Regions from separate parts of the Homo sapiens genome. Here region 2 is linked to region 1. The links come from fine-mapping of genetic effects on gene expression. A gene starts in region 1. The other region holds a variant in brackets. All regions are shown on one strand. Distances are from middle to middle.

Region 1 (3,018 bases):
TGTCCTATTGCCAATGATTAATTCAGGTTCTTTACGTCCAAGATAGGATTAGCATATAGCATTATGCAGTGTTTCCCAAACTACCACACTACACTATATTTGTGTAAAAAGCTCCCAAAACGCCTGTTAAAAAATGTAGACTTTCTGCTTCATCCCAGAGTTTGGTTTAGTAAGGCTGGGATGGGGTCCAGGAACTGCAATTTTAAGGACCTCCCCTGTCCCCAGGGCAGCTCTTCAGTAAACACACTGGCTTAAAGGTTAAAAGCAAAGGCCGGGTGCGGTGGCTCACGCCAGTAATCCCCAGCACTTTGGAGGCCAAGGCGGGAGGATCACGAGGTCAAGAGATCGAGACCATCCTGGCCAACGTGGTGAAACCCAGTCCCCACTAAAAATACAAAAATTAGCTGGGTGTGGTGGCGCGCGCCTGTAGTCCCAGCTACTCGGGAGGCTGAGGCAGGAGAATCGCTTGAACCTGGGAGGCAGAGATTGCAGTGAGCAGAGATCACGCCACTACACTCCAGCTTGCCAGCCTGGCGACAAAGTGAGACTCCGTCTCAAAAAAAAAAAAAAAAAAGGTAAATAAATAAATAAATAAAAGCATGGGTATTCGGATAGTTTTGGGTTCCAATTCCAAATCTGCTACCTACTACATAGCATCGTGCAAAATACTGAGTCCCTCCGGGCCACGCTGTAAAATGGGGATATTAACGTGTCCCAGACTGGGGGACTGTGACAAAGAATCAATGAAATACAGCATCCGGTGCGTTCAAAGCTAGGCCCCTCTCCGCAGGTGGACCCCTTTGGTTGGCGTGTAAAGCGCTATGCCACTGATTCCATCTCTGACATAGGTGGGAGCTCACGCCAGGTGGGTCACCACAGTCCGTTAGCGGGGGACCATGAACCGCAGACCCTCGGTAATATGATTCCCCCACCGCATCCGCCCGGGGGTGGAGATGCGAGGCCGCCCTGGCCAGCCACTTACCTGGGCCAGTAGCGCGTTGCACACGAGCTGCAGCCTGTCCGGGGTGATGTCCACGGGCACGTCGAACGGGGAACCCAGCAGCTGCCCGCCCTCATCCTGGAACTGCACTAGCAACCGCTGCACATCGCGCGCCACCGCCTCGTCCTGCGCGAGCAAGTGGGGCGGGAGTCAGTCTGGTCGCCCGCCCAGAAGGGCCCCACTTCGCCTCTCTCAGGCCTCAGGGACCCGGGCCCTAGCGCCCCGCGGCGACGCCCCCCGCCCCCATCCACGCACACCCACCGGCACTGCTGCCGCCATCCTGCGTCCCCACGTGGAGGAGAAAGAGCCCGGCAGACAGAGCGCCGTCTCCGTGGTCGGGCGGGGTCGCCGCCGGCCACATCGCCCTCTGCTGTTGGGGAGGAGAAGCGTCCCGCTGCGCACGGCCTCAGGGATTAGAAATGGGCTTACCTGGTGCTCCTCCCGCCCCTCAACAGCCTTCACATTTATTTTTCGCCAGGGTCTTAGAGGACACAGTAAACTTTTGACTCTTCACAACAGGGATTCTTGCCCCATTTTAATTTAATTTCATTTTGAGACAGAGTTTCACTCCGTCGCCCAGACTGGAGGGCAGTGGTGCCACCACGGCTCACTGCAGTCTCGAACTTTCTGGCACAGCGATCCTCCCACCTCAGCCTCAGAGTAGCCTGGACTACAGGCACATGACACCCTGCCCGGTTATTTTTTTCTCATTTTTTGTAGAGACGAGGTCTCACTATGTTGCCCAGGCTGGTCTCAAACTCCTGAACTCAAGCAGCAAGTCCCCCACTCCCCAGCCTCAGTGTCCCAAAGTGCTGGGATTACAGGTGTGAGCCACCACGCCTAGCCTAGAAATTAGTATCCTTTTAAAAATGGATCAAGTCAAGGCTGGGCGTGGTGGCTGACACCTGTAATCCCAGCGCTTTGGAAGGCCCAGGCGAGCAGATCACTTGAGTCCAGGAGTTCGAGACCAGCCTGGCCAACATGGTGAAACCAGGTCTCTACTAAAAATACAAAAAAATTAACCAGCCGTGGTGGCATGCGCCTGTGGTCATAGCTACTGGAGAGGCTGAGGTGGTAGATTCTCTTGAACCTGGGAGGCAGAGGTTGCAGTGAGCCGAGCTCTCACCACTGCACTCCAGCCTGGATGACAGAGCAAGACTCTGTCTCAATAAATAAATAAATAAATAAATAAATAAATAAATAAATAAATAAATAAAATGGATCAACTCAATAATACTCGAGTACAAAAGCAAATCATTTCTACAATCATCAATGCTGTAAAGCAATAATAGTGATAATGACATCAACAAGTCAGGAATTGTTCTAAGTGCTTTCCCACATAACTCATTTAATTCTTACAACCCTTTTCTCCCCATATTACTGAGGAACTGAAGCAGACAGCAATGAACTTGAGCTCTTTTGCCTGAAACGAAGGATCTCCCTTGCCAACTCTCCTCTCTCTCCCTCCACTGCTCAGGCAGTCTCAAGCTCTGCCAAGTCATCCTCATGAACACAGCTTGAATCTGCTCTCCCCATCTCCACTGCCTCACTCTGGTCAGAGTCACCATCATCACCTGCCTGGACCGCTACAACAGCCTCCCGATGAGCCCCCCCATTTCCATTCCTGCCTCTTTCTACCCATTCTCCACGATGCAGCCAGGGTTATCTTTTCAGACCAAAAATCTGGCCTGCTGCTCTTCACCCTCAAACCCTGCGACGGCTCCCTTACATGCAGGAAAAAAAGAACACTCCTTATAATGGTCAATTCAGCCTTGCTATGTCCAGCCACCCCTCTCTTTAGGTTAAATCTTGCTGGCTTTTTCTGAGTTCTTACAAGGCATGGCTCTTCCTGCATCAGTGATTTTGCCCATGCAGTTTTTTCTGTCTGGAACTGTTATGGAGTGAATTGTGCCCTTCCCCTAATTCAAGCTTGTCCAACCCCTGGGCCACAGGCTGCATGCAGCCCAGGATGGCTTTGAATGCAGCCCAACACAAATTCGTAAGCTTTCTTAAAACAT
Region 2 (2,715 bases), 110 kb after region 1:
ACTTGCTTTACTGTAGTAGAAATTTTCTCTGCCTTTTTCAGTGCACCTTTAGACAAAGACAGTCAATACTTTTCTGCCTTTGCCTTGGGAAGGACAATGGTATAACTGGACAGTCATACTCCAGAGATTCATTGAAGCCCCTGTTTTTGTCCAGATGCTCAAGTAAGAGTTAAAAGATGGCTGGGCGCGGTGGCTCACGCCTGTAATCCCAGCACTTTGGGAGGCCGAGGCGGGCGGATCACGAGGTCAGATCAAGACCATCCTGGCTAAAACGGTGAAACCCGGTCTCTACTAAAAAAAAATATCAAAAATTAGCCAGGCGTGGTGGCGGGCGCCTGTAGTCCCAGCTACTCGGGAGGCTGAGGCAGGAGAATGGCGTGAACCCGGGAGGCGGAGCTTGCAGTGAGCCGAGGTCGCGCCACTGCACTCCAGCCTGGGCGACAGAGCAAGACTCATCTCAAAAAAAAAAAAAAAGAGTTAAAAGACATAAATTTCCCTTGTGACCTTGTGATTCAGTTCTGATACAATATAAAAATGATCTCCTACTTTGTTCAGAGAACAAGGAAGCCTGTTAAAAGGATTCCATTTTCTTGCTCTCAGCCTTAGTAGAGAAGGGACATAAAATTTTTAAGGCTAAATTACAATTTTACCAAAACACAATTCATTATTTGAAGTAAACCTCTCTAAGGAGGGATAAATATTCTCTCCTGATAAAGATTATCCGAAGTTATTGTAAATCCCTCACAAAATGACAGATGAGAGGATTTCTAGGTTAACTGGATATTGCAAACAATAGGTGCCAAAGTTTTCTGAAATTGGAGCACCTCTTTATGGATTGACTGTCTTCAGTGAGGGATTCTCTCCTTTGAAAGTCCAAACATAAAGACCTCCTGGAACCTGAAATCAGTTCTTCAACAGCCTCCTTCCCAAAGCACCCCAACTGTAGAAAGCCATTTTGTCTATTTGTGCGAGAGCGATGTAGAGAAGCCCTTGGGCCTTCAACTTCATGGAAACCATGAAAACCCCATTATTTGCTGTAGCCTCACTCTTGACCTGTTTAAAAGGCTTATTTCTATTGGTTTAGGGCATTAGCTGTCACTGCAAAACTTGA[T/C]GATGCTTCTGCCAAACTAGCTCTAGGCTCATTCCCCGCCTGACCTCATGGTTTCTCATGCAACACAAACATTACTAATTTGGGGTTTTTTTTTGTTTGTTTTTTTGTTTTTTGAGACGGAGTCTCGCTCTGTCACCCAGGCTGGAGTGCAGTGGCGCGATCTCGGCTCACTGCAAGCTCCGCCTCCCGGGTTCACGCCATTCTCCTGCCTCAACCTCCCGAGTAGCTGGGACTACAGGCACCCGCCACCACGCCAGGTTAATTTTTTGTATTTTTAGTAGAGACGGGGTTTCACCGTGTTAGCCAGGATGGTCTCAATCTCTGACCTCGTGATCTGCCAGCCTCGGCCTCCCAAAGTGCTGGGATTACAGGCATGAGCCATGGCGCCCGGACTTTTTTTTTTTTTTTTTTTTTTTTTTTAAAGACAGAGTCTTGTTCTGTCGCCCACGCTGGAGTGCAATGGCATGATTTCGGCTCACTGCAACTTCTGCCTCCTAGGTTCAAGCGATTCTCCTGCCTCAACCTCCCGAGTAGCTGGGATTACAGGCACACACCACCACGCCCTGCTAATTTTTGTAATTTTAGTAGAAACAGGGTTTCACCATGTTGGCCAGGCTGGTCTCAAACTCCTGCCCCCAGGTGATCCACCCATGAAAAAATCTGGTTGAATCTTTACTCTCATAATCTCTGGTGCTCTCAAAATGGCCACTTGCTGGCACCAAATTATTTAAAATGGATATTAGCTAAATTTCTCCATGAAATTACTCATTATAATATAGACAAATTGGTCACTATCTTAAATCCACATCCGTGGGAAAACTAAAAAGACAGCTGAGCGGTGGGGCATGGTGGCTCATACCTGTAATCCCAGCACTTTAAGAGGCTGAGGCAGGAGGATTGCTTGAGGTTATGAGTTTGAGACCAGCCTAGGCAATCTTGTAAGACCCTATCTGTACAAAAAATTTAAAAAATTAGCTGTGCATTGTGGCGCGTTCTTGTAGTCCTAGCTACTTGGGAGGCTAAGGCAGGAGGATAGCTTGAGCCTAAGAGTTCAAGGCTATAGTGAGCCATGACTGCACTCCAGCCTGGGTGACAGAGTGAAAAGCCCTGTCTCTAAAAAAACAAAAACCAAAAAGGACAGCTGAGGATATTTTCAGGTTATGTGTCGCCTGTCAACAACATAATCCTGGAAAAATTCTAATGTCATCTTTTGTTCCTCTATAGATAATGTGCCTTTTTCCTCTGGATGCTTTTAAGATTTTTTTCTGTATCACTGGTTTTGAACAATTTAATTATGATGTTCCTCAGTATTTTTTTTTTTCACATTTCTTGTGCTTAAGGTTTGTGTAACATCTTAGATTTTAGATCTTGATTTTTTCTAGTGTTCATCAAATTTTCTTCAAAAATGTTTTAGTTGTTTCAGACAGGAGAGTAGCCTAGTCCCTAGTACTTTATTCTGACTGGAAGTGAAAGTCTCATGAATGTAGTTTTGAAAATCATAGTTCCTTAGACACAGTAAGGAAACCAATGGCCTCAGCCTCTCCCACTTCTGCTTGCCAGGAGCCTCTTGTCTCTCGGGCTTTTTCTTCTGGCACGTGTTTCTG

The links. PIP is the estimated chance that this variant, and not a neighbour inherited with it, causes the effect.
Region 2: its variant is the best candidate, but not a certain one, in a credible set for the expression of NLE1 in lung (TOPMed, PIP 0.85).

Annotation. Positions count from the first base shown.
Region 1 is chr17:35,140,997-35,144,014 of GRCh38, forward strand. NLE1 (notchless homolog 1) reads right to left here and starts at 1,307. Exons shown (of 13, transcript NM_018096.5): 1 at 1,262-1,307; 2 at 983-1,126. The coding sequence starts at 1,279. RefSeq lists an enhancer at 738-1,615.
Region 2 is chr17:35,250,200-35,252,914 of GRCh38, forward strand. The region is part of intron 1 of SLFN5 (schlafen family member 5); the gene reads left to right. Among named protein-coding and RNA genes, the nearest start is that of SLFN5, 8.5 kb to the left of the region's middle. The variant T/C (reference allele first, on the strand shown) is at 1,112.